4 linked regions of the Homo sapiens genome follow. The protein of the gene in region 4 purifies or fractionates together with the protein of the main gene of each other region. This does not show direct contact. Each region holds a gene or a part of one and is shown on either strand. Other genes may lie near its edges. The genes, in order: IL36G, NDRG1, SERPINA3 and CDK15.

Evidence for each region.
Region 1: the proteins of CDK15 (region 4) and IL36G purify together in Homo sapiens (affinity purification with mass spectrometry; 2 studies listed by BioGRID and IntAct, with this or other methods). This does not show direct contact.
Region 2: the proteins of CDK15 (region 4) and NDRG1 purify together in Homo sapiens (affinity purification with mass spectrometry; 2 studies listed by BioGRID and IntAct, with this or other methods). This does not show direct contact.
Region 3: the proteins of CDK15 (region 4) and SERPINA3 purify together in Homo sapiens (affinity purification with mass spectrometry; 2 studies listed by BioGRID and IntAct, with this or other methods). This does not show direct contact.

What each region holds. Positions count from the first base shown.
Region 1 is NC_000002.12:112,974,001-112,981,013, forward strand, and holds the start of IL36G (interleukin-36 gamma), read left to right. Parts: upstream 1-4,005; 5' UTR 4,006-4,078; intron 4,079-4,619; 5' UTR 4,620-4,638; coding exon 4,639-4,693; intron 4,694-5,220; coding exon 5,221-5,325; intron 5,326-6,008; coding exon 6,009-6,148; intron 6,149-6,966; exon of another isoform or gene 6,967-7,013. UniProt on the Homo sapiens protein: Cytokine that binds to and signals through the IL1RL2/IL-36R receptor which in turn activates NF-kappa-B and MAPK signaling pathways in target cells.
Region 2 is NC_000008.11:133,294,222-133,301,438, forward strand, and holds the start of NDRG1 (protein NDRG1), read right to left. Parts: upstream 3,032-7,217; 5' UTR 2,913-3,031; exon of another isoform or gene 2,516-2,912; intron 2,470-2,515; exon of another isoform or gene 2,418-2,469; intron 1-2,417. UniProt on the Homo sapiens protein: Stress-responsive protein involved in hormone responses, cell growth, and differentiation. Acts as a tumor suppressor in many cell types. Necessary but not sufficient for p53/TP53-mediated caspase activation and apoptosis.
Region 3 is NC_000014.9:94,615,391-94,622,390, forward strand, and holds part of SERPINA3 (alpha-1-antichymotrypsin precursor), read left to right. Parts: intron 1-3,804; coding exon 3,805-4,078; intron 4,079-6,950; coding exon 6,951-7,000. UniProt on the Homo sapiens protein: Although its physiological function is unclear, it can inhibit neutrophil cathepsin G and mast cell chymase, both of which can convert angiotensin-1 to the active angiotensin-2.
Region 4 is NC_000002.12:201,879,527-201,886,558, reverse strand, and holds part of CDK15 (cyclin-dependent kinase 15), read right to left. Parts: intron 6,532-7,032; coding exon 6,392-6,531; intron 4,295-6,391; coding exon of another isoform or gene 4,254-4,294; exon of another isoform or gene 3,868-4,253; intron 1-3,867. UniProt on the Homo sapiens protein: Serine/threonine-protein kinase that acts like an antiapoptotic protein that counters TRAIL/TNFSF10-induced apoptosis by inducing phosphorylation of BIRC5 at 'Thr-34'.

The sequences.
Region 1 (7,013 bases), about 89 Mb from region 4:
GACTTCCAATTATGTAACCTAGTAAATATTTTTATTGTTTTAGCCACTTGAATAGGATTTTTCAGGTTTCGAAGCTGAAAATAACTTAAATTGATAGACTCTTATAAGTACACATATGGGGCCAAGCGTAAACACATTATCATTTTTAATAGCCTCTACAAAATTGCTTTCCAAAAAGTCTGCAATGATTCACACGGCCATCCATGTGGTGAGTGAATCTATTGTCTCACACTATTGCCTACTATCTTTTTAATCTGTGCCTTCCTAATGGGTGGAAACTGAATCTCAGTATTGCTTTGATTTGCATCTTGCTAATTACCAGTGTGGTTTACTATAATTACTTATATTTATTGGACATTTATATTTTCTACTCAGTGAAATACTTTTTACGTCAATTGCTCATTTTTCTATGGAATTATTTGCACTTTTCCTGCTGCTTAGTAAGAATTATTTATAAACTTTGGATATTAATTATTTGTTAGATGTGTTACAAATATTTTATCTTGGGTAGTCTGTCTTTTTAAATTCATTTCATGATGTGTTTTGTCCAAAATTCTAAAATTTGGGTGATATTCAATTTATCATCTTTTTTTTTTTATATGGATTTTGCACTTTGTGTGATTTGGGGCAAAGAAGGCTAAGGGTTCTCTGTCATTTGGCTCTTTGTCTAGGAATTTCAAACTCTAGGCATTTAACCTGGACCCCTTTCTCAGGAGTTGCACTATGTGCTGTCTAATTAAGGCTTTTTATTGCTTTAGTTCTTTGTTGTTGTTGCACATAAATGACAATTTAACCAATAACTGTTTTAAATTTAGAGAAATATGCCTTTACAATAGTCCTATATGGTTTGGTTCTTTAGTCTTAACTCTTTTAATGTTTCTATTTATTACTGCCATTTTGATGTGTAGCTTTGGGGTTATTTTTGTTACTCTGTCCTTCATTTAAATAGCGTGTTGGCCTATGTGCCAAAGTCTGGGGTTTCATAGAAACCAGCTTCAGGAAGATGTAATGGATCAGCTCATAGGAAGCAAGTCTTTGATAATGGGCTTGGGCTATGTGGAGGAGCAGAGGCTTTCGGCCATGTCCATGCACATCATTCCATCTACGTTGGGTAAAGGCTTTACCACAGAGCCTATGCCAAGAGCTTCCTTGGCATTTTCCCAAGTCCACTAGAGTACAAATGGCCCCACACTGGTCTCTGTGGTTCATGGTACACACCATGTTGCCCCACCAATTTAAGCGAGATGAATGCCAACTTCTTTCCAGTGGCAATCTTCAGGCCAGGTTGCCAGCCTGCTTGTAGATAGCCCTTGATAGGTAATAGGCCACATGGCTTTGGTCCTCTTTGGGGGCCCCAAGGAGGACCTATGACTCCAGCAGAGAGCTCTGCATTTGGAGTCCGGAGTTATAGATTCTAAGTTTAATTTTACTACTAAGGTGATTTTTTTTATGGTTGGCAATGGTGGGGGCTGAATAACCTTTACTGCTCCATGGCTCCCTCTGCTTTGTTATGATTGTGTGCCTGGTTTCATGAAAAAGGTGTTGTAGAGATTCTAGAGATTGTAGTGGTGGTCAGTAATCAAGTTCTCTTACCCTACCTGCATTTCATTGATATTCCCTCAACTTAATAAGGTAATGAGCATGTTAAGTGAACAAACTAGTAGCAGGGCTTATTACCAAATGAATGTAGATTGACAGTGTCATAGAGCTTGGAAATTAGAATCTGGACTAAGTGTTTTCTTAAAATCATTTTCATATCTAGGGAATTTGGCCTTGTCAGTACTTATGGTAATTAAATTCAAGCCACACTTAATGATAAGCATCATTGTCATTGTTCTCCATGATAATAAATCGTTGATAATAAATAAAACAATCAATGGTAATAAATAAAATATAGCAACGCTATGTTCTTTACTTTTTATAACCAGAATCAATATTGATGGTTTTCTCAAGTACAGCCAGGGTATCATGTAATTATAACATCCATCCCTTCCACTTTAAGATAAACGTTCGGGGCCATTTCTTCAGTAGATGTGATCTCTGCTCTTTACTGATCAACCCCAGTGATTCAGTTCTCCCCTTTTATCATCATCACTCCTACTCCCTCCAATTTCTCTGATACTTATTCACACTAACAGTTAAACTAGGGACTTCAGGATGGATGCTGAGTGCTGGGAATTCTAGGAAGGGCTGGATTCTCTGAGTGCTTGGAATCTATTGAAGGGTCAGGACCAAGTGGAATGAGGGCGGAGGCTGAAGAGGACACATGTCACCCTCTTTTATAGTTTTTGCAACCTTCATCTGGGCGTGGGAAGTTCTAGCTGTACCCACAGGCTTTTGAACCAAAGAAAATTCAGCTGTTAGAGCTGTGTCCTGTGAGTCCTCTGAGCATCCTCTTCTTGACCCCTCCCCTCCACCTTCATGCTCCAAGCATTGACCAGACTGTACTCTCTTTTCAGAGGTCTGAGCATCAATTTGGCAGAGAACGCCTCACCTCCGACTCATATCTGGGGATAAGTCCTACAAAAGCGCTCCTTTGAGACCTAGGTTCTTTTGTTCCCTTTTGTTTCCTTCCTGTAGTTGTTACTATCTGAGATACCACAGCAATCCCTTAATCTTCTTTGGCTTTCCAACACACGTGTATCTAGTTCCTTTTATTCAATTCCCTTTGTTTGCAATTCCTAGCATGGATTCTGCTTTCAGAGGGATCCCAGTTGGAAATTCAGGCTTAAGGGATTTGGGGGGTCAAATGATGGGAATTTTAGATGCTGTTTTGTGGTGAACATCCCAAGAAAGGAGTTATGTTGACTGATGTGTAATGGAGGGGATTTTTAACAGGGCAATGGAGACTCAAGTGAGGTGGCACTGGCTCAGGTTGACTTTGAACAAAAGTGCACCTGGCATTACCACACTCTTTCCTAGGGTCACAGAAACACTGGAAGCCAAAAGTGATAGAATTGGGGCCATGGCAGGAAAGGACTGTGTTCTTCCAAGGCCAGAAAGGAGATTAGGGTGAAAAGTAAGAGACGTTGAGTCAGGAGACTCTTTGCAGGGCTGGGAAGAGGGGCTCATGGATGAGCTTATCTGGAAGGTTCTGTCTCATTCTTTGTGCTTTTCTTCCTTATAGATGGGTAAACCTGAAGCTGTTAGTGCTTCAAGTCTGTCTCCTAAAACTCACTTCACTCTAGTAGTTAACTTATACCTCAGTAAATTTTTAGGCTTGGCTACAGCAGATAGGATGGGGTGTATAAACAAGATATAAAAATAACTATTACCACTGATCAGGAACCTAGGGCAGAGGGTGGGGGATAAGCTGGCATCTGGGGCTCAGATTTGGGAGAAATCGCTGCCCACCTCTTTACTTCCTTAGGCAGTTCTGGAGTCCACTGCATTTTGAGGGTACCTGAAACTAGGATTGCCTCAGTTAAAAGACCAGTCTGCATAGTCCCTGTGGCTCCCCATGTGGATGGAGCTGAAAGAGTGTTAGGTAGGGGAGCTCTACTGCCTGGCTTTCCATTCAGGTGTGGCCTTAGGTGGGGTAGTTGAGAAATGCCACAGGGACCTTGCCTGAGACGTGTGGCTAATTTTGCTCTTACAGGATGCCTTTAGCCTGACTGCAGAGGGCAAGGCTCCCAGTCCCAGGAGATGGAGTCCCTGACATGAGAGTGCCTGGCATTTCCAGTTCTAGCTCTAGAATGACATGACAGGAGAGCTGAACTCTGGGAAATTCCCTTAGTTTCCCCTTTATGAGAAACCTAGGATCTGTCATCAACCTCATTTCCTTGTGGTTGATTTTGTGCGGATTGGCTCAACACTTATTTCTCAGCGAGCCCGGACAGGTGATACTTGTGCTAATTCTGTGATTTCTTCCTCCGAGCCTCACAGGATCTTCTGGTAGGAGGAGCTGGTTTTCTTTCATGTCATACGTTTCTCATGCCCCACCCAGGAAGCTGGAGCCTCCTTCTCTGCTCATCCAGATAAATGATCCAGGCTCCATTAGAACCCATCACTGACCTTGGAAGCTGCTGGAGCCACGATTCAGTCCCCTGGACTGTAGATAAAGACCCTTTCTTGCCAGGTATAGTCAATAGCTGGAAAACCTCTTCTCCCTCCCTCTGGAGCCTTTCCTCTCATCTGTGCTTTGGGCTTAATGAAGGGAAGGGCCACATCAGGCTGGCTCTGTGCTTTGTCCTATGTGTGGCTGCTTCTTACTGGGGAGTTGCTGGGATCCTGGCAGAGTGGCCCTGGCATGGGACCCTCCCCTGCTCCTAGGCAAAAACAATGCCGATGAAGGGGTGGAGGCTTCAGAGAAGAGGAGTCAGGGCATCAGGTGCCTGTGGGTTATTTAAGGTCAAATTTTATGCCTGGCCTTCGAACTCCTAGGGGAGACACTACCATACTATCTGGATCTCCAGGTGGAGGAAAATTCTACCTGTTCTCCCTTTGCTGATGCTTCCTTCAAGTTTCGTCCCAGATGTGGCTCAGAACTTCTGCCCAGAGCTTCGTGTCAGGCCAGGTTTCCCAGCTCCCTGTCTAGAATGAGGGCCTGTGGAGCTAGTGTCCTGGAAGGTCTTGGAAACATCTCTTGTGGTTCATCTGTTCTATGTCTGCTTTCACAGGTGCTGAGACAACCACACTATGAGAGGCACTCCAGGAGACGCTGATGGTGGAGGAAGGGCCGTCTATCAATCAAGTGAATCAAATGCTGTTGGGATGGGGCTCTGGAGGCTTAGGCCCTCTGCACTCACGCTATCTCCTGTGGAAGCCCCAGCCTTCTCTGCTCCTCTCTGTACACTGCCCTTCCCACCTGGTGCTGCCCACCTACCACTGGGCCCTGGGCTTCTGGAGGGTGGGAGCTATTGCTTAGTCACTGATCCAGCTCCAGTCCCCAGCACCGGGGCCAAGCACAGAGTAGGCACAAAAGAGGGTAGCTGGGCCTTGGCACACAGGTTCTGTGAGACTGCTCATTGCCCTCTGTCTTGATAGTTTGCCCTCTTAAACCAGTGACTTCCCTTGGTAGCCCTTGCCTTCCTCACCAGAGCTCACAACTTCACTAGAAAGAAAGGCTAGGCTGATGGGTGATGTGAGTGCTGTCAGTTTGGGGATGCAAACCCCACACCTTCCTTACAAAATGGCCTGGGTTAGATACTTTTCTCCTGGGTCTAGTAAAGCAGCCTTGATTATAATATTTCTTCATTTTTTTCTCTATCCCAAAATCAGTGTGTAAACCTATTACTGGGACTATTAATGATTTGAATCAGCAAGTGTGGACCCTTCAGGGTCAGAACCTTGTGGCAGTTCCACGAAGTGACAGTGTGACCCCAGGTGAGTGGTCACCCTGTGCCTTCCCCACTGTTTGCACTGCTGTGGCTGGGAAGCTGGCATCAGCCTTTTGTAAAAGTGTGACTTTACAATGGGGCCCACCAGGAGTGGGGAGAATTTCACACCTAATTGGGAAGAGAAGTCAGGGAGAACTTTGGGTTCCACTAAGATGAAGAAGCCAGAGATGGTGGAGGAGCCTCCAAGGGAATAGGAAAGCTGCTGTCAGTCATCTGAAGCCCTGTCTTATGGAAGACTAGTAGCTTGTTCTGCATGACTTCAGGGTGTCCTAAAATGACTAAATGGGTGAATACCACAGAAAGGCAGGTTTCAGCATCACATTGGGAAAAACTTGCAAAAGGGACCAAGCTCTCCAAGAATCAGAGGGGCTGCTTGATGTAGGAGCTCCCCATCTCCATGTGCTCAAGCAGAGGCGTGAGAATCTCAAGAGCATACTCTGTTGTCTGCTTAGCTCTCTGTGTTTGCTCATTTACTAGGGCAGTGATTGGCACATGGTATGAATGAATGAATGAATGAATGAATATGGGGGTTGGCCATTTGGTGGGTCTAGTTGGGATTACACTCTTCAGCTCTCTTCCAGATCCACTTGAGGATACTGCCCTGCTAAATCAAATAATCTTTCTGACTTCAAAAGGAAACTGATACCATCTCTCCTCTTATCTTTACAGTCACTGTTGCTGTTATCACATGCAAGTATCCAGAGGCTCTTGAGCAAGGCAGAGGGGATCCCATTTATTTGGGAATCCAGAATCCAGAAATGTGTTTGTATTGTGAGAAGGTTGGAGAACAGCCCACATTGCAGCTAAAAGTGAGTAGCTAAGAAAAATATTTAAAAAGCCTTTCCTTTTAGAAGTGTTTGGTTGAATACCTAATTTTAGAATTAAAAAAGAAATAGTCTCATCTTCCTAAGCATATTTATTCCCAGCCTCTTTTAAGTTATGTGCATGCAATACACTTTTCTTTTTATTCTGGCTGTCAGTAGTTAAGGTCCTTGTTTTGCTTTTTTTTTTTCCAAGCCAAACTGCATCCAGCTTTATTAAAGATACTTTCCATAAACATTCATGGTATTTCAGGCAGGATATGGGCAGACAATTGTTAAGAGTATGCAGCAAACTTCAAACTCCCTTGTTCAAAGGACTACCAAAAATCAGAAAGCCACTATAAAACTCAATGAAGTCTTCATCTGATGCTCTGAACAGGGAGAGTTTAGAGTGAGAGTTGACATTTCACATTTAGCATGTGGTTTAAACTTTTCACAAGCCAACCCTGACTTTCAGGAAGTGAAATGAAAATGGTAGAATTTATCTGAAGATCCACGATCTAGAAACAGAACCACTGCTCTTTTGACAGGTGCCATCTCAGTGGCATCACTGGAAAGTCCAGAGTGCCTGACATACTGGTAACCAATGATTGAGGGCCAGGTCCCAACAGATGTCTGGCTTAAAGGAGTTAAATCTATGCTGAAAGATGGAAAGGGAGAAGAGGACATAAAAATGAATTTATTTTCCATACCACAAGGCTTTTCTGCCAAGGTGGCCATGTGTGTCAAAGTCAGAGAATCCCTCCTCCTGGGAGCCAAGAGGAACTCTCTCAAAACTAGAAGGGAAAGGTGTTTTCCCCACATCGATCCAGCTTTGGAGACATTCTATTAGTGACATATGCCCCTTCCCCTA
Region 2 (7,217 bases), on a different chromosome or scaffold from region 4:
CAAAGTCTGGCTCTCCCACCTGAGCCATATGGCAACAGGCAAATCCTGAAACTCTCCTGGCCTCAGTTGCCTCATCCATTCAATGGAGCAATACGATCCAGGCAACGTTCTTGCGAGGATGAAGGCAGATGGAGGGAGACAGTGGCTGCTCTGGAGGGAGAGAGATGTCGTGTCCCTCCCTGGCCTTCCTTCCAGGCTGAGTCAAACCTGAACCCTGCTTGAGTCTCAGATGCTGAGTCATCACGCTTTCTCTCCCAGGACAAGGCCTCTGAGTCACATCTGGAATGGGATTCTCTGGGGTTGGGTCCCAAGGAAGAACTGCAGCTTTGGGCCACCCGAAAAACACAATGCTATCTTTCTTTCAGGTCCATGAGGAGGCAAGTTCAGGCCAGCGGATTTCAACGTAACCCAGGGGGGCCCTCAGCTCAGTTGAGATCTGTCTTCTGTCATGGGGGGGGGGCAGCCCCATTCAGTCAAAGGCCAACTCAGGGGGCTGCAGCCTCTAAGCCCCTGCCCTTCAGGCTGGCTTTGCTAATCTCTCAAGAACACCTGATTTACACTTAAAAAAAATCATTCCGCTCTGCCCCTTTGGCCTCAAAAGTTTCCTCACCAGAAATTCAATGAAGATGCAATTTCCTTTCGCCCCTCCATAGCAGGCAGGCAAAATCCTGCCAGGAACCCTTTCCACTGCCTTCAGTCCCACCCAGGAGCCTCTCACAAAGCTGAGCTCCAGCTCAGTTCGGCCTGGGCACATCCCTCCCCATCCCTGTGCCTCATTTTCCATCTGTAAAATGGAAAGAAGTTGGACTAGGTAGGTCCTGTGTGAGTTTTTTATTCCATTCCAAATGATCAAACTTTGTTGCTCCAAAAGAACTTCCTCACAAGAGACCCAAACAGACACTCCAGGATCCCTCAAAAGCAAAAGCCAACACCTCCACCCATGCACAGTCTATTACCTCGCCCGAAACTCAACCTGCTGGTTCACAGGAGAATGGGGCAGAAGACCCAGAGCCATCCACTTCATCCCATGTGCATATTTCAACTCCTCCCACCTGCCAGGCGCTGGGCCAGGGGCCAGGTTACAGGGCAGGGCAGGCAAATCCTCCTCCTTGCCCAGATGCAGTGGGAGACACGGTCCCACAAAGCTAAGAAGTCACAGGTCAGGGGAACACCCAGTTTTCCATCCACACCAAAACCCTCTCTCTCCCTTACACCTTCCTTCATCCCCGACACTGTGCCACCCCAGCCTGGGGCTGGCTCTGCCGCCACACACACCACACAGAACCGGTCTGCGTCTCCAGCCGTGTGTCTTCCCCACCAGAAGGCAGCCCTTCCAAGAAAGGCGCTGGGGTTTGCCCCCTCTGTACCTTGCTTATTTCAATCACATTTGTGAAACTCAATAAGAACGCCAGAATTTCTCAACAGGAAGAGTCTAGACTGAAAAATTCGCCTTGAAACTACATTTCTGCAGCAAGAACAGGGGGTTTGTATTTAGATATGTTCTTTTGAGGCAGCTTAGGAGAAGGTCCCGTGCAGCTGATGGGTATTATAAGGATGTCTACCGCCCTCCTGCCTGGCCACTGGCTGACTTCTGAATATTAGATATTTCCCAGTAGCTTAAAGAAACCAAACAAACTGAAGTGCCCCCAGCGTCCGTGAGGAAGGGGTGTTCTTGGATGGGCATAAGATAACCAAGGGCCCTGCCTCCCCCACCCACTGCCAGGCATCTCCCACTTCCAAGCCACAGAGGCGTGCTGTTCAGGACCCCCAGGGACAGCAGGGACAACAGGCGGGGGATATGGGGGAGGGGTGGGTAAGGAACCGACCCACTAAATCCCAGCTCCAGCTACTAATTTGACAGAGGCGTGACAGCGTGTTTCCCCCAGAACCAGCCGCATTCCCCAAGCCCAGCCCGAAATCTCCTCCCGAGGCTGAATCAGAGACCGCGGCGGATCCCCCAGGAACGTCGAAGTAATTCCAGCTGTTTTCCCCCGTGGAGGGCAGGAGCGGCCAGCACCAGAGGCAGGGGAGGGGAGGAAAGCGGGGGAGGGTGGGCGGAGGCGAAAATGACGCCACTCCTAGCTCCAGCCAGCTCAAGGGGCCGCCAAATGTCCGCGAGACCCCTCTCGCCCAGGTCACTTCTCCCACGCCGCCGATGCGCCAATCCCGGGTTCCTCCGGGGGCGCACCCTGCCCAGTGGCGCTCGCAGACACTTGCTCCGGCTCGCGTGTTGCACTGTGACACACCCTGGACCCTCCCCCCACACACACGCTTACACTCACACATGCACACCGCCCTGTGTGTGCTACGGGACTGAAGCGCCACCAGCCTCTCGGATCCACACCCGTTCCCGACCCAGTCTGCAAGCCAGACACACCCACGCCCCCCTCTCCAGCCTCCTTGCCAGCGCCACTCACCTCTACCAACCCCTCATCTACACACTCGCGCGCAATCTCTCCGTTCCCAGACACAGACACACACACACACACACACACACACACACACACACACTCACCTAGTCCCTTCTGCACCCACGTCCAGCGCGCACCCCTGCCAGCGGCGCCAGCTGGGATTCGGAGACGACGCCAGGAAACGCTATCCTGGTATTTTTTCGGACCGTCTCATCGCCCCCTTCCCGACCTCCAGAACCCCAATCCCCAGCTAGGGGGGAGATGAATGGGACCCTGTCTTTTTTTCCTCCCTTTCCGTAATTGAACCCCCCACTTCAGCGGTGTCTGCACCCAAAGCCCCCTCGCGCCCGCGCCCCGGGGTGACCGCGCACTTGCAGCTCCGGGGCGCTTACTCCTGGAGTACGCGGGGCTACAAAGGGCGGTCCTGGCGCTCCAGCGGCACCGCACGGGCGGCCCCTTTCTGCTCCGCGTCGCGCCTGGGAGAAGAGGGCGCGGGCTTACCTAACGCGAGGGAGAAAGGAAAGGACGGTGCCGAGGCTGGCGGCCCAGCGCCCCGCGGAAGCCGAGGGCGGATGGTGAACTGACGAGCTTCAGCACCAGCTGGGAGCCAGGCGAGGTTTGTTTACGTCCGGGCGGAGGGCGACTTTATAGGCGCCGCGGCCCCGCCCCCGCGCCTCGCCCCTCCCAGACCCTCGCAGTCCCAGCACGCAGCCGGGACACACCCCTTCCCCGCTCCCTGCTCCCTCCTCCCGGGCGCGCCGGGCTGGGCTGGGCTCCGGCAGCGCGCGGCGGGCGCCCACTGGAGCCGCCGCCTGTTGCGCAAGCAGTCGTAGGGGCGCGGCCGGGAGGGGCATCGGGGCCCGGGTTGTGGGTCGGCTCTGCAGTCCCCTCCGAGTCCAGGGCCTCGGCCTGTGCAGCGGGCGCGTGTGCCCTGCCCGGAGGAGGCGTTTGTGTGCTTGTGCGTGTTCATGTGCGCGCTCGTGCGTGTGCATGTGGACTTCCTTGTGTCTCCGTATGGGCGGAGGCCCCCCATCTCTGCCTCAGAGTTTCTTCTAAGAGTCTCGTTGCGCCACGCCCTGAGCGACTCCCTTCACTTCCTGTAGGTCTCACCAGCTCGGCTCTCCAGCCGGATTCGGCTGCCTGCCCAGCAGCCGCCTTCGCTTTCGCCCGACAGGCTCCCTCCGATTCTCAGCCTTCCGTGTCGCCAAAGCTCTCGCTGAAATCCTCGCTCCCGTTTAATCTCGTCCATCTTGCCCACCGCCGCCCAGCGCTTACCCTTCCCCTCATCTTCCCAGTTCTAAGCACACTCACTGGACCTTGCCCACTGGGCTCTTCTCTCCTGCCCCACAAGCCCAGATGAGAGGATTCTCACCCCTTCCTATTCTGATTTCCTGAACTTTCATGACTCACCCTTTCCAACCTTAGCACCGTCCTGCTCTGCTGCTCTGTTTGTGCGTAACTATTGGCCTGCATGTTCCCATCTGGCCAAAGAAACCAGCAATTCTCAACCCCTACTGCATATGAGAAGTCCCAGAGGAGCCGCCAAATTAAAAAATAAATAAATAGATAGATAATAAAAAGAGAGAGATGGACTCCAGAACAGTTTAATCAGAATCTCAGGGGGTGCAAACCAACTGGGCATTGGGGTTTTTACAAAGCTACCCAGGTGGCTCCTGACGTGCAGCCAGGTTGAGAAGCACTGCATGGAGGAACATGATTTTATGAATAAAGGAAGTCTGACTCACAGCTGGCACCGTCATTGTCCTCAGGCCACCTGCCCAGCGTTGAATTTGCCACTGAGCCCAGGACCAGACCCAGGGCAAGCTCAGGTGACCCTCCCTGCGCCTCCACAGACACACACGCGCGCACGCACAACACTTCCTGCTGAATTGTAAACCTCTTTTCTGTGCCAACCCATGCTGTCCCCAAGGCAGGGGCCATGGCTTTCCCCTCTGATTATTAGGGCCAGTTTTGGAGAAGGGTTTTCTGGAACAAAAGAAATATGGAGAGGGGCAAACAGCACCTCTAGGACCCAGGACATCTGTGTTTCAGGCCTGTCTTTGACACTATCGATCACAAATCAACAAATCTGGGCTTCAGAATTCTCACTGGCAAAGGGAGAGGATTAGATTCAATGATCTTTCAGAACCTATCTAGTGCTAAAGCTCTGTTATTCTATTACAAATGACCAGTGTGAAGAACAGAGTTCCAGTGTCATGGGTTTTGCTGCTAGAAGAGTTTGGCTAAACTACAAAGTTTGGCTATTAGCTATGAAGTTTGGCTAAACTACAAAGTTTGGCTACATTCAAGAATGCCTTGAATGTAGGAGCACATTCCCCCACCCTAGAAAATTTAACATCTAGAATTAATAAGTGAATGAATGACCACTGGGCAGTCTTCCATTCTTTATGGATTTGAACTAGTTCAACTGCAGCATTCCCAGTGAGGGAAAATTTTTCTTATTTCAAATAAAATGTTGTGTCCAGGTAGAGTGGCTTACACCTGTAATCCCAGCACTTTGGGAGGCCAATGCAGAAGCCTCTCTTGAGTCCAGGAGTTTGAGACCAGCCTTCACAACATAGTGATGTCCCATCTCTACAAAAAAGATGAAAGCTAGCCAGGCCTGGTGGCAAGTACCTGTAGTCCCAGCTACTTCAGAGGCAGAGGTGGGAGGATTGCTTGAGCCCAGGAGTTCCAGAAAAGTCTGAGCAACATAATGAGACATCATCTCTACAAGAAAATAAAAAATCAGGTGGGCTTAGTGGCATGCAGCTGTAGTTCCAGCTACTTGGGAGGCTAAGGCAGGAGCCTTGCCTCCCTAGGCCCTGAAACTTATTTATTCTGTCATTCCACAAATGACAGAATTGAGCTGCTCTTATGAGCTGGGTCCTGTACTCCGCCACTGGGAAAGGACTGAAAAGGCAAAAACATTTTCTACAGGTGCATAGCATGGTACAGCCCCAAGACGCAGTTTCTCCATCCATACAGCGTGGTTGAGATGAACTCATTCATTCCCTAACTATATTAAGGACCTACTATGCCCAGGCACCATTCTAGACCCTGGGGACATGATCATGAACAACAGCAACAACAAAAGTGCATCTCTGGGAGCCATCCTGCTGTCTAAAGACCCTCCCAGATCAAGCAGCCTGTGTGCCTGTTATCCTTTAGCCAGCTTACACATACCCATTTTCCCATAGGCTCCCCATTGCGGCGATTTATTGAGTGAGCACCTTTGGTTTTTTACCTGCTAAAGATACAAGAGTGTCAAGTTCAAAAGTGCGGAGTGTCAAGATAAGGAATGTCAAGTTCAAAGGCGCAGGGAAGGCGGCCCACTTCTTCAGTAACAAATGGAACTAGTGCATGGAATTAGAAGGGCATTTTGCCAGGGGAGGCCCTTGCCTGTCTCTTTGAGGAGGTCCTCAGGACAGAATGCGAAGAGCAGCCCAGATTTGCAGCTTGAAACCCCGAGGAGGTTGCCTGGCAGGAGGCTGGGCTTGTGTGGGAAGCCTAACCTTCTGGAAGACCATTAGCATTGAATAGGTCAGAAGACAGAGGAAGGAGAGTGGAGTGAAGAGAAAAGAGCAGAGAAGGGAGGCAAGAATTTGAGCAATGGAACACAATTTTCCAAGTGATGGCATTCTAAAATCAGAGTCCACATCACCTTGGAGAAGGCCTGAGGAAGACACCATTTGGATTCCACACTCCCCTCCCTCAGCCCAACACAGCCAATTTTCCTTCCCTGTTGAAAAGGATGTTTTCTTCCGCTGAGCACCAGATGAAGTAGTTTTCTTAGCTAAGTGTCACGCTGCAGGAGAAAGACTGTCTTTAGTACAGGCCTGGATGCACATAAAGCATAGAGGACGCCCACCCTATACAGAGGCCCCTCACTGGGACCTGGGAGCTGCATGCACCTCCACATCCCCCACCGCAGCCAGCTGAGGTGGCAGAAGCTCACGGAGCTGAATGTGGGTGCAATTGCACTGACTGTTTACATTATTCCTCTTTCTCGCTGGTCAGCAGTAGAATCAGATTTGCTTAGTAAATGCACACGCGCTGCAAATCCGTCACAGGATGAGATTGGATTTTCTGGACTAATGTCCACTGGAAATTTCTACTTAACAACAACTTAGATTTTATACTAGAATATTCTAACCAAATGTTCCAAAAATGACCATAGGAATCACCTGTTCCCAACTGTCTTTCTTAAAACTCATGGGTACTCGGGGTTGGGAGAGACCAAGATGCAGCAGGGATTCATGGAGAAGAACCCGGTGGTCTGTGGCCCCCAGCTCCAACTTCACCACTTATGAGCTGTAGTACCTGGGGCAAATTACTCCACCTCTCTGTGCATGGAGGAAACGAGTGAGAGAAACCATCAGACCTTTCAATCACAATTTATGGGTCTACTGCTGCAGACCATCATCTTTTCTGTCTGTCAAAATGAAAAAGTGTCCGTAAAAGTGTCTTCCCACCTCCAGTCCTGGGCTCCCTCGGGACCCCCTCTCTCCTCCAGCATCCATCTCTCCCTTTCTTCTGGATCAAACTAATCAACAAGTAAATATTCACTGCAATCAATGACCCACCCTAAACCAATCCCCTCTTAATTCCAAGCCCCCCACTCCTGTACTGCAGCCCAATCAACAAGTAAACATTCACTGCAATCAATGACCCACCCTAACCAATCCCCTCTGATTCCCAAGTCCCCCATTCCTGTACTGCAGCCCAGTTCCTCTCACCCCTTCCTCCCTAAACTTTCCAAAACAAGCATCTGTACCCAAAGGCCCACCTCATCTCCTCTTCCTT
Region 3 (7,000 bases), on a different chromosome or scaffold from region 4:
AACCACTCCAGGGCGCGTAGGAGCTAGAGCTCCCTCCTTGCAGGGGTGCTGCTAGACTAGGCCAGGAAGTCCCTCTGTCTGGATGCACCTGGGGCTCCTGCCCTGCACATGTGGGAGGAGCACATTCCAGCCAGGGGCCTTGGTGTCTGGAGGTGGCCAGGTGGGGCTGGGGCCATCTTCACAGGGCAAGATAATCCCCAAGGAGCCTGGCCACTTCCAAGATTCTATGATTCTACTCTGCTATCATCTTTAATTATTTTAAAAAATATGTCACTGACACATAACAAATGAGGGCAGAAATGGCATTGTTCCCATCTGGGGAAGAGCCTCAAGGGTGGGCAGTATACAAAACATGACCCTTTGCCAGATTCTAACTGGTCCAGTGCCCAATCCCATTGATAGAAACTCAACCAATGCAAACCTCAGCCTGCAAGCTCCGAAGGGGCAGAGTGCAAGCCGGTAGCTTTTGCCTCCTGGAGCCCACAGTCCAGATGGGGACAAAAAAAGAGATAGGGACACAAAGAGTGATCACTGAGCCAGAGGGTGGAAAGGTGCTTAGGAGACATGAGCTGCTTGGAGGCAGAGTCCTGCTTGGAAGCTGTTGGTTGATTCCTGGGCAAGCCACTTCCCCTCCTGGGCCTGGGTTTTCATCTGTAAATGAAGGCGTGGATCCAGATCTCCCTCTAAGACTACTCCACGCCTCACGTGCCATTTGTTCTCTGAGTTTCCCATGTTCTCGCCTCCTACTACCTAGCCCTATGCTAGGACTCTCCCCTCCAGGACACAGTAGCCAGCCTAGCTTTCCCCTCCCCACCTGCCTCTAACAATGGGAAACAGGCAGGTGGTAAACAGGTGGGCAGTGGAGGTGGCCCCATGTCTCCAGCCTCCCCTGGAAGCTCCCACCCCCCTCATTGTTCAGTGCTCTGGTCCTCCTGGAGTGGAGACCTGCAGGGCCCCTCCCCTTCCTCTGTTGACCTCTCCTCACTCTCCAGGTGCCAGTTTTGCTCCCTGCCTCAGCCTGGTTTACATACAGTGTATGTGACGGGGCTTGGTCACTGCTGGGGCAGCCCTGTGGAAGGTGGAGGGGACCGAGCATGCATGAGCTTCAGGCTGAGACAGTCCCAGCTCAGAACCCTGGAGTGCTTGTTCCCTCCCTTTCTGCTCTTCCTCTTCCATTGCACCCACTGGACCCAAGAGCATGCAAGGATTGACTCACCCAGTGATGCTAGAACTATGTATTCAGCTGAAAGTAAGGGGGTGGGGGCATCCAACCAGGGGCAGAAGATGGGAATTCAAGAAAGGAAGGTTTCCCCTAGAAAACGGTTTTCGTCTTTTCTCTTAAATCCAGATAGAATAAGAAGCGAAGGCCGTTACAGCAGAGAGAAAGTTGAGTCAAGCAGAGATCAGATACTAAAGACACTAGACTAACCAGACATTCGGGCCCTCAGTTGAACAGCTGAGGATGTCAGAAGATGTTAAGGAGGCAAAATTGGAAAACTTGGTGGCTGGCAGACAGAAATGGGGGGAGATGGGAGCAGATGTGAGAAGATTTAAAGGCTTGTAGAGCTTGGGTGGTGATTTCATCCACCAAACCTATCTCTCTCCCCATTCTGGCATACAAGGCAGCAGTCAGGGTCCCCAGAGGCAGCCCATCTTTCTGGCAGGGACCCATGCTGGAGATCTGGCCAGCTGAAAGGCCCCAAAGGAGCTCGGTGCCCTGGGTAATATGGGAAGGTGCTCCATGGCACTGCCCTCACATGGAGGCCACAGAAGCCCCTGAATGGCTGCTGCAATTGGTAACGGGGACACCTGTTCAACTGAAATATCTCCTACCCTGAGATGGGTCCTTTCTCCAAGGGATCTTTACAATTACATTTGTCCCCAGTCATTCCATGTTGGGAGGCTGCAGGGACCAGAGAAGCTGAGATGGTCTTTGGGGAGGGGAAAGGAAAGATGGACAGTTATTTTGGTCCTAGAAAGCCCAAAGGTGGGGAAGTGTCAAGAAGGAAGATGAGGGCACAAGAGAATGTAGGGCCACCCAGAAGCTGGCTCTCATTGCAATTACAGAAAGAAAAACCAAAATAAAGAAAGAAAGGAAAGAAGCTCCCATTTATTGAGCAGCTACTCTCACCAGCCATTCACATGCAATACCTCGTTTAATTCTCGCAGCGGCTCTGAAAGGTGGATGGTGGTATTGCCATTTGTTAGGTAGGAGACATGCCGTCCAGAAAAGCAAATAATTAAACATTCAAAGTTGACCTGGGCCCATTTGAAAATTCCTTTTGCTCCCTCATTTTAACCCCTAAAGTAAAGCCGTTTGTGACTTTATGAGCTTTTACCAAGCATCTCCTAAAACCAAGAATGGAGGTGAAAGATTGTGGAGCCCACAACCTAGAGAAAGGATTGACAATTTTTTTTCCATAAAGGGCCTAGTAGTATGTATTTTAGGCTGTGTGGTCCACATGAGGGCAGATTCTTCTTTTTGACTTCCTCCTCTGCATCTTCTTCATCTTCTCTTTCCTCTTCATTTTTTTTACAACCTTTGAAAAATATAAGCACCATTCTTAGCTTTAGGTACACACAAAAATAAGCTATGGCTGTATTGGCTTACAGGCTATAGTTTCCTGACCCCTGTTCTAGGGGAGGAAAATAATTGTACCCAACTAAATGCGTGCGAATCATGGGCCTATGTCATGATTCCCAAAGAATGAGTTTCATGGAATTTTCAACATTTTAAATATTTTACTCCATTCTTCCCTTGCTTGCATAGTTTCTGATGAGAAGTCTGCTGTCATTTTCATCCTTATTCCTTTTTAGATAAGGTGGAGTTTTCCTCCCTCTGCCTCTACCTCTACCTCTTTCAAGATTTTCTCTTTCTCTTTACTATGGTAAATAGGCCTTTAGTGAGAGGAGTTATGTCAGCCTGGCTAGGAGTCAGGCTGCATTTCAGGTTTGTGATAGCTAGAGGTACCAGAGGCAGTTTCATGGAATTTTACCTTTGCAACACTGAGAGCCTAGGCAGCCTCAGAGTCAGAACACCCACAGTTGAATCCTCAGCCTGACAGACACTGAATCCAGGGCAAATCTTAGCTGAATATTCATGGTCTGTAGAGGTGGACATGAGCTAGATATGAGCTAAGGACCATAGCCAGCTCATGGCTTTTGTGATGTCCAACACCGCTATCCTCTAAGATGTCACAAGTGTCCCTAGGCTTTTATTCCCATGGTCTCTCCTGGCTCTGAGTTCTATCTTCCATTAAGGTTCTTCCTGTTCCTCCCCTCATTCACACTGATTGGCATCTCTTCTGTCTGCCCTCACCAACTCACATACAGAACCCAGTCTCTTTCCTCTTATTTCCACCCAAAGCCCTCCCACAAGCCACTGTTATATGTTCACATCCCTGTAATACCAGTGAGTAATAATTGCTAATGAGACATTTTTCCTTTTATGGAACAAAGGCTGTCCCATTTCTCCTCAGGCACCAGCCTCCCACATGTTGTCATGCCTCTTTCCCCCACTTTCCCTAAACCTTCTTTCTCTCTTGCACTCCTTATTCCCTGGTTCCTATTGATTTCTCATTTAGCACAAGGAACTAGGTCTTTCTTTTGTGGCCCTTTTCCCAATCCAAGCCTGCTGGGCTCTCCCTCACCCCCAATAACTTTTACTCTTGCCAAGCTACTTCTCTAAACCAAAGCAGGGTCCCTCCTATGAGGGACTCTGGGCACTTCCACTGCTGCGGAAGCAGGGTCGAGCAGGGCGACCCTTGCACTCACACCTTCTCCAACTGCTTGCTCCACCTTCAGCCAAATGGGAGATGCCCTTTGACCCCCAAGATACTCATCAGTCAAGGTTCTACTTGAGCAAGAAAAAGTGGGTAATGGTGCCCATGATGAGTTTGCATCACCTGACTATACCTTACTTCCGGGACGAGGAGCTGTCCTGCACCGTGGTGGAGCTGAAGTACACAGGCAATGCCAGCGCACTCTTCATCCTCCCTGATCAAGACAAGATGGAGGAAGTGGAAGCCATGCTGCTCCCAGAGACCCTGAAGCGGTGGAGAGACTCTCTGGAGTTCAGGTGATTCTTCCTGGCCCCCAAAGACCCCACATCTCTCCACGTCAAGGTCTCACCAATGTCCAGGGACAAGGGCATGGTGGTGGGAGAACTCATACAGGGACAGGTGGAATTTACACTTACTTTGCCCTATGCTGCCTACATGGCTTTGGGCTTGATTTTTCTTTTTCTTCTTTAAGACAATGACATCAGACAGGACAAGGGGCTGAGGCTTCCTCTGACTCCAGCATGTTCTAAGTCATGAGAAATCTTCTGCACAGTCCCAAACACTCATGCATGGTTTCTCCTGGTCTCAATCTCTTGAAGGGAGAGAGAAACAGAAGGAATTGTGATCAGTTGAGGGCTGCAGTGAGATGGACTCTGAGAATCAGTTCTGCACTGGTGAACCACTGTATTTATTCATTCTCTCAGCATTTGCTGCATGATTAATTGAGCACCTACTATGTGTCAGACACTAATTTGCACCCTGAGAGTAAATCAGCAAATAAAACACAAGATTCCCTGCCCTCCTGGAGCTTAATTTGTAATTGGAGAGGGGACAGGCAATAAATAAATATAACAAATAAGTTACGTGATATATTAGAAGGTGAGAAATTGAGTAAGGGGATAGAAATTGAGTAGAGGAGGATGAAAGGATCAGGAAAACTGGAACTCGTGTTAGTTTGTGATTTTAGATAGAGTAGCCATTAGGTGATGTTTGAGCATCCATATAACAGAGGGGAGGGGTGGAGTCATGTTGGTATATTAGGGAAAAGCATTCCTGGCAGAGGGAACAGTCAGTGCAAGGCCTCTGAGGTGGAAGTGAGCTTGATGTGGTCAAAGAAGAGTCAGGCCAGAGCAGCTGGGCTTCCACTTCCTCCATCTTGTCTTGATCAGGGAGGATGAAGAGTGCGCTGGCATTGCCTGTGTACTTCAGCTCCACCACGGTGCAGGAGCAGAGAGAGTGAGGAGAGAGTTGAGAGAGGTCAGGAGTCCCCAAAGGGGTGGAGCAGCTTAGGTAGGGCCACGTAGACCCCTAGAAAACCTTGCCCTTCCTCCTGTGTGTGAAATGGAGAGCCATCAGGAGGTTTGGAGGAGTGCTGCGATCCGAGTGTTGTTTTAAAAGACTAATCCTGGCTGCTGAGAGGAGAATAACTGTAGAGCAGGTATGGAGTCAGTGACACCCGCAGGAACCAGGCACAGACATGAGGTGGGAGCCCACTGTGGCTGGGATCCAGGAGGGAGCCATGCATGTGAGAAGTCATTGAGTTCTGGATAAATCTGAGGGTAGAGGAACTTGCTGGGACACACGGAATTGAGCTGACCGATTTCATGGGGACACAGTGAGGAGGAGCAGTAGTTCCGGGCCCAGACCCTGCAGTGGGCCCAGGGAGTGCATGTGGGCAGCTGTGTGGGGTAGAGAGGAAGGAGCACCAGCCTTGGGTTCAGACCGTGGTGGCTGGTGTGACCTGGAGCAGGTCGCTGCTCTTCTCTGGAGCTCAGCTACCTCCTGAAGAGAAAGGAATGTCCTTTCCCCACCACCCCTGTTTTCACTGGGTGATTGTGAGAATCCGGTGAGGTATTGTATGTTGAAGCCATAATAAACCACTAAGGGCAAGGGAGCTGCTTCAACACTAACCTGAGGCTGCAACCCCTGCCCCAACCACTGTCCAGAAGGCCGGACACCTCTCGGGATTGCCTGACCCTCAGCCCCTCCTCACTCTAGATCCCAGGAGACCCCAGAACGTGGGGGTCCTACCCAACCCATCCGTTTACTCCCAGACTCCTTCCTCCTTTAGCACCTAATAGCCACCAGGGAGCAGGGGCTCAGCAGATAATTTTGAGTGGAAAGAATTCTCCAAACACTTTTGATTTACAAAATGCTGAGGAAACATGTGTCCACACACTCCTGGCCCACAGAGAATGCTCAATAGATACTTGTTGAATGAAGGATGGAATGAACGGACAAACACATGAATGAATGAATAAAAATAGAAATAGGACACCTTCCTCCTTCAGGGGACTCAGAGTTTAATGGAAGACACAGCCTCCTGTATAATTGTAAGACCAGGCAGACAGTGACAGGCATCTTAAGAGGGCTATAAACTAAGGGAGGGGGAGTTTGCAGGTGGCAGGTGTGACCTGGGCCTCTAGGAGCTTGCTACCTGCTCTATGCCAGCCCACACCTGGCTTGAGGGACAGTGCCCACTGGTGAGGCAAGATGGGAACCTCCAATTGATTGTTTCAGGATCCCCAAAGCTCTTCTAACACAATCAGACTCTTCAGAGGCCCCCAGGCCCTTTTTGACCTGCCTCTGGCTCCTGGCCCACCTCATCCCTCACTACCCTCCTCCCTGAAACACTGAGATCACCCACCGCCCCGTGGAGCAACTCCTCCTGCTCCCACCTTCTTCCAGGTTCTTCCACCTGCCTCCTGCCCACCTCTTCACCTAGCTAGCTCCTTTCCTGCCTTTGGGACTCAGCCTCAACACCACCTCCTACAGGAAGCCCTCCTGGTGCCCCCGTGAAGCAGGCTGCCATGCAGCCACTGCAGCTGGCCCAGCCCAGGCTCTCAACACACTCAGGGGTCCCTGCTGGTGTGAAGGTGCTTCAACTGCATTGCAAGCTGCAGGGAAAGGGCAGGGCCAGGCTCGAGCAGGGCCACAACTCCAGGCTTGGTGTGCTGCCTGGAGACTTTCACACTTGCAGATCTGAATGAATAATTAATGAATAAGAAGAGTAAAGACAGGGGTTAAGAAATTGAGGAACAGATTATTTATTTTCCAATCAGAAGGGGGTGACTGTAGAGGAAACCAGGGAAGACCATGCTGCGAGGTGGGAGGCAGGTAGGTACTGATCAGCAGAGGTTCAGATACTTTTTTTTTCTCGTTTTCTAGAGAGATAGGTGAGCTCTACCTGCCAAAGTTTTCCATCTCGAGGGACTATA
Region 4 (7,032 bases):
GAGGTCAGGAGTTTGAGACCAGCCTGGCCAACATGGTGAAACCCTGTCTCACTAAAAATACAAAAATTAGCCAGGCGTGGTGGCACAGGCAGGTAATCCCAGCTACTCGGGAGGCTGAGGCGGGAGAATTTCTTGAACCTGGGACATGGAGATTGCAGTGAGCCAAGATCATGCCATTGCGCTCCAGCCTGGGCGACAAGAGCAAAAGTCCATCTCAAAAAAAAAAAAAAATCTTAAAACCCAAGGCTGATTGCATATATTATTACAAGAAAAGAAAAGAAAAGAAAATAAACTAAAGTAAGATGGCATTGAGGAAGAAGTTGGTCCTGGGGTGTAAATCTCTATTCAACATAAATTGAGCCCTCTTAATTGTGAGATATTAAACACGCTACCTGGAGATGTGTGGAATCTTTCCCAGAAAAGCTTTAAAATAAACACAGTACATGAGAGAGTGGGAGGAGCACAGAACTGGGCATCAAGATCTTGGTTCTAATCTTGATTTTGCAGCTAAGTTCCTATGTGATCTTTAGCAAGAACAATGAATAGTAGGAAAGGAGTAGCTTTTAGGAGTCAGATTTGAAGTAAAATCTTGGCTCTACAACTTTCTAGCTGTGTGACTTCAAGCAATTAGCCTACCTGACTTCCAGCTGTCTAATCTGTAATATGAGGATAACAATTCCAGCCTCACCAATTAGTACATAGATTGATAATTTATATAAAGCATATAGATGTCCAATAAAAGGCAGGTACGATTATTCTTCCCTGGGCATCAGTGACTCAGCTATATAATGAAGGTATGGAATAAGTAATCTTTAAGATCCTTTATAAATAACTCTTTTCTGAATTATTTATCTTTACTTGGAGACTCAGCCATGAACGTAACAAATTTAACCAACTTAAGGGCTTGGTAGGGCTGAGGGACTTGGTTTTCCCAGACTTCTCCCAGCAACACAATGCTATGCAACCCCATAAACCACGTCTCAACCCAGTATCTCCTCTAACATATTGAAATGGATGGAGAACAACTTTGTGCATAGAAGGTGAGGAAGTGTGTTATGGAGGACATCTCCAAATTCGCTTCTTAAGGGCTGATTAATGGAGGATTTAAAAGGTGGACAGATTGGTCTGAGTTACGTTACAAACTCCTAGAAGTAGCACAGAGTCAAGAGGATGGCTGAGAATCTTCCCTCCCTCTTTTCCAACATCCCCAGCCCCTGAAACCTGGCCTCATAGAATGACAAAATATTCTGGTTCAACTTTGAATAGAATACACAAAAAAACCAATAAACAGAATAGGTTTGAAATTACGTGGAAGCATTCAGAGTGAAACTAAGCTTGATTAGTACATGTTAAAGAATGTTTAAATTGTTGCAAAAAGGCATACGATGGTAAGAAAAACTACAATGGTATATGAGTTAAGACTGAGCCACTATGATTAAAAAGAAGACAACTTCAGAATGATCTTAGATGGTATTGAGAGGAACACGACATTCCTTTGCCCGTATGCCCTTCCTCTCCAATCATCCAGACCCATCATCTTTCAAGGCCCACTCACAAAATCATCCTGGATCCCCACAGCTGGAGTTAATCTCACCTCCTTCAAACACTTAGAGCACTTTATTTGTATACTTGATCTGCAGCTGTTTATATACTTGTCTTATTTCCTAAAGGACCGTAAGCTCTTTGAGGACAGGGTCTATGACTAATTCATTTTTGTATCCTTTAATATCACACCTCATGGACACTCAGTAAACCTCCAATGAATGAATGGAACATGATTCTCCCACCATGCAAGAAATTTGAGTCTATGCTGCCTCCATATTCTCAGAGATAAGCAAAATAATTGGAACAGATTCAGAAGAGAACAATAAAACAAAATGACTAAAAAGTGGGAGAAACAGAATTTGTATTTGGAAACAAAGGTTAAAGGAATTCAGCCTAAAGTGGCCTTTGGGAAGTGATATCATAGGGACCTTCCAATATATTAAGGAGATAACACTCAAAGAAGGCCTGAAGTTATTTTATTGAACCAAAACAAAACACGACTCAGATTTTAACAGGGCAATGAGGCATGCTGAAGAACTTTCGGAGTATAGATATCGGGATGGTGTGATCAAAGGTAGAGGTAAATGCCATGCTTTCTTCCATCCCTATGTGTATATAAGTATACTCTAACAATGGGGGCTGTGGTACAGCATTTTTGCAAAATTACTTGTGAAACAATTGCAAGCTTTTTAGATTTTCTCCCCCTAAGATGCTAAAACCTGTTTTAAAGGAGAAGGGGATTTAGTCCAGGAAGGAATGGGAGACTCAAGTATGAGACTTGGCTAGCAAGCAAAATGGGACCAACCCAGAGAGAGAGAGAGAAAGAGAGACAGCCTTTGATGTCCTGACGATCAAGGACCATGGCTTAAAGACCAGACTCTTAAATCACGTGTCATTTACTGCCTCAGATAAAAAATACTTTTCTGGATCAGTGTCTGTAGTTCAAAATGGCTAGGTTCCAAAATCAGTCTTAAATTTCCAAGGGTAACATTTGGAAGGTTTCCTGAAAGAACAGAGCGGAGCCAGTTTTAAGAAGGGGCAGCTTAATGATTTCCTACTACCCCCACCCCCAAATCATTAAACAGTGTTCCTTTCCCAGAGCCCAAGTTCATGCTGAGGGCAAAGAGAATTAAATGAAGAAGCTGAACCTGCAGCTAAGATTAGAGAGTTGCCAAGGGCCTAATTTTAGGTCCTAGCTGCTCCAGCTGACGTCCTGCCCTGCTGGCTCAGCCACGAGGACCACAAGTGTGGCCATAAGCCGGTGTCTGAGTGGGAAGAGCGACTCCCTGGCCATCTGCAAAAGCAATTAGCTTGCTGTTGGCTGTGTTTTGAGAGGGACTACCAATAATTTCTCCTTCAACAAGTGTTTCTTCAGGTGTTCACGAGTCAATAAGGGAAAATGTCAGAACTTGGCAGAAGTTCCCACATGCTTGCCATTCTAATATTCACACTTTTCCACTTCAGGTGCTGTCCAAAAGGAAACTAATCCTGGAATTCCTGGTTTTCATGGCAAATAACCCCCTGATAAATGCCCTTTGGCTCTAAGCGTACTGCCACAACCTAGGGAAAGCATTGTTCGGGACTTCTCAGCGTCATGAAAATAGAGATGGACTGGAACAATTCTTTCATTTTGTGTGGAATTTCTATGCCGCTCCTACACTGGGATTTAGGCTGTCCTTCCACTCTCCACGTATTTCCCAGTCCCAGGCTTTATGCTTTAATTGTCTTCTTTAGAGGGCAGACAATAAGAGCTGGCATCTTCCAGATCAAAGGGGAAACAGAATATATTTTAAAGTGACAACTCTGTTATCCTGCAACCAGAATAAAATCAGAATAATAAAATGATATAAATATAAGCCCCTAAATAATTTTATACTGAAATGCCACCAGAGAGCAAAATTTCTTGCATAATTATGGCAGAGAAACTCTCCTTACAAATCACTCACAAGAGCATGCCGATTTTTGCACAATTCTCATGCCTGGGGCAGCCCTCCTCAGGGATGGAGTTTCTATGTCCCTGCAGATTGGGAACTGTGATTACCCACTGGTGTGCTCTGTCTGCAAAGGAGGCTGTTAATAAAGGCTCATTGCCAGGGGCAATGAAAAAGCAGGCTGGCACTGCCAGGCCAAGGACCGCATCTCTTAGTAGATAATGTGCTGGTGGTGAGAGCCACTGTCACGAAGGTGCACAAACCAGCCCTGGCTGCTTCTGTCTCTTCCTCTATTTTTCTTTCCTGGTAGCTTTGCTTTTTCTATCTACTTGTCCATCTGTCTATATACATATTTCTGCACACCCACCACCCTGTCACACACATACACAAGCACACACACATGCTCGTGCACTCATGTGCACGAGCACACACACACAGAAGCACACACACCCAATCTTGCCCCCGCCTTTCCCTGTCTCTTGGCACCGGCGCTTTCATCTTCTCCCTCGGGGATTCGAGATGTCGCTGCAGGAAATGCTTGTCCGCCGAGGCAGCAGCAGCAGAGCCCTGTGGCTTTGACAAACCTCATTTAATTGGGAGGAAGCCAGGAGAATTTGAAAGAACTGAAACATCCACGAAACTCCTTTTATCAGGCATAATTTAAACTCTGCATGGAAAAACCCCTATATGTATAAAGAAAAGTCAACTTCCCTCCTGCTGTGAGCACTCCTGGTTTCCCCCGCTAGTGCAGGCAGCCTCCTACAAGATTCCATCTTTTCATTTTTCTAAAAGTGTCAAAGTAGATTTGGGCTCTGTGACTGGGCGAACAGGGAAGGAATACAGATTGTTCTCTCTGTCTCTCTCTCACACACACACACACACATACGCACACACACATATACACACATACACACACAACCTTAGATACCCATGCACCACGGCCCCTCTGTTGGTGGCTTTGCTTTTGGGTCAGCCAGGAAAAATCAAAACCCAAGTTTCTAACAACACATCAGTTTGGACAGTGATTGTTTCTTCCTAATCATCTTGCGTCAAGCAAAAGCTGGAGCCTAGAAAACTCTGAAGATCCCCAGCAATTGTCAGCATGTGGAATAACAGATCCTAAAGGAGGGCCAATGGGGAAAGTTTCTTTAAGTGGAGAGAAGGGAGTGTGTGTGTGTGTGCGTGTGTATGTACATCCAAGCGTGTACACTTGCATGAAGTAATAGAGTTATAAGTCCCAAGTCTGACAGGAGAAAGCTGAAAAGGAACAATCTAGGGGCTTGGACTGGGAAGAGGGGATTGGGATGGGAGTGGCCGGGGAGGAATGGGGCTGAAGTGGGGGCAGAGGTACCAGGAAAGGAGTGAGAACTGTGGATCTGCCTGCAATGTCTTTTGTTCCACCCATATGCCTCTCTCCTCCTTCCAAATTCCACTTTAGATTCACCTCCAGTCTAATCCATCTCATTTGAATTCTTGTTCCTCCAAATAATTGCCTTCAACACACACATAGTCTCTGCACATCTGCAGTTGATTATGCACAGATTTTTTGCTGTTTAGATATGATGTGTGCTGATATGTGTGCGAGGGTGCCCCGTTTCCTCTTCCTCACCCTCTTTTCCTCCCACTTCATAAGAACCTGGAGGCCAAGGACAAGTCTCTTGTTTTCCTCAACTTTTTATAGCACTCAATATGTTCTTGACACTTAATGGCAATTTAATAAATACTAATGACTGACTCTTTCTACAGGGTTAAGTAAGACATTAACCCCAGTTGTATGATTATGGTTATTTTTGGAGATCCTAAATGACTCACTTTAGTCATAAAACAGAATGCCTCAGCAAGTCCCAAACTAAGCGCTTTGGACTGCTGCAGGACGATGTCCTAGACACAGAGGAGCTGCGTCTGCAAACTCTGGCAAGGCGGACCAGGCTGTTTCCACACCTCTTGGGCAGTAGCTCCTCACCCTGTCCCCATCCTTATCTCACTGCACCCCATCGCCACTCCCCCACGCCCCTTCCAGTGTCCTCATCGCAGTTCCAGCCCTTAGGCCCTCCCTCCTAAGCTTTCTTTTCTCTGGCTTAGGACTTCTAAAACCAACCCTGGCTGCTTCTCTCTCTTCTGTTTTTCCTTCCTGGTAGCTTTGCTTTTCTTGTCTACTTGTCCCTTGCTCCTAAAACTATTTTTAGTTGAATGGTGGATTTTTTTTCAAAGAAACCTCACCTAAGGATAGTCCCCCATGACCACTGCCCACATCCTCCTGTAGCCCTTCCTGGCCACAGTCCAAGAAACATGACGGGAGTTCCAACCACATGATCCCTCAGCAGATTTCAGGTTTGGAAGATGACTTCAGGCCCAGGCAGCAAAGGCTGATTCCAAGGTAACTTGTGTTTACAGGAGGTGGGCAGCCTCGGAGGAGACCTCCCTTCCCCCAGCACCCCACCCCGGCACTGCCTTCTGCAGCTTGCTATTACCAATCAAGAAAGGCCCAGCTCCCTCTCAGGACATATCCGCTTCACCTATCATCTTACTCTCCGCAGAAAGGGAGAAGAGTCTTGTTAGAAACACTGGTGTGGCTTCCTGGCAGATGGTAGCTAAGGCAAACAACTCAGAGACAACGTCCATCTCATCCAATTTCTGAGTGTAAATGTGTACCTGTGAAATGTCTGGACCATTACAAAGAGGTCCTTGTAACCTCTCCCCACCAGTGCTTCAGAGTTTGAGAGAAGCTCATGCAAAACTCAGACAAGATTAGGTCCTATCTTGCTTCTCCCAGGCAAACTGATCTCTAACTTCACTCCTGGGGGTAAATGCTATGATTCTCCGGTGCTGAGGCAAACTACTTAAGACACCAAGACTTACACACACACGCACTCACGCACATGCACTCACGCACACGCACACACTCCCTCGCTCACCATCAGGAAGCTGGTACAGCTGAGATGGCAGGGCGCTGAAATAATCATGAACAAGTGCTTCCTGGGCGGAGACGCGGTCTCTGGGAAAGCCTTTTAGCATCTGGGAGGCCAGGTCTTCAGCTTCAGGAACCCTGCCCAGCCTGGAAAAGTGGGAGAGAAAAATAGAGTTTCTCCAGCAGCCTCCCTTCTGAAAAACAAAGGGATAAAAACAAAAAGTAAAGAAAAGGAGATGGCTAGACTTAGATTTTAAGTAGAATTTTCCTGGAATTGCTAAAGTTGATGGCAACTGGAAAAGTAACCCCCATACTAAACTCTTACTGACTGTCCTGTTACTAAGTTGAAGGGGAAAAATCTCCTCATTCTATCACTCAGCTCCCTTGCCCTCCACCGTGTGTCTGGGCACCATGTACACATAAAAGACACAGAAATATAATTATAAACAGAAATATATAATCAAGGATTCTTTTTGGAGGAACACTGCAGCCCCAACCAAGTAGAAAGGCCTGATTCAAAATACGATCGAACTCTGAGAGGCTGAGGTAGGCAGATCACTTGAGGCCAGGAGTTTGGGACCAGACTGGCCAACATGGCGAAACCCTGTCTCTACTAAAAACATAAAAATTAGCTGGGCGTGGTGGCAT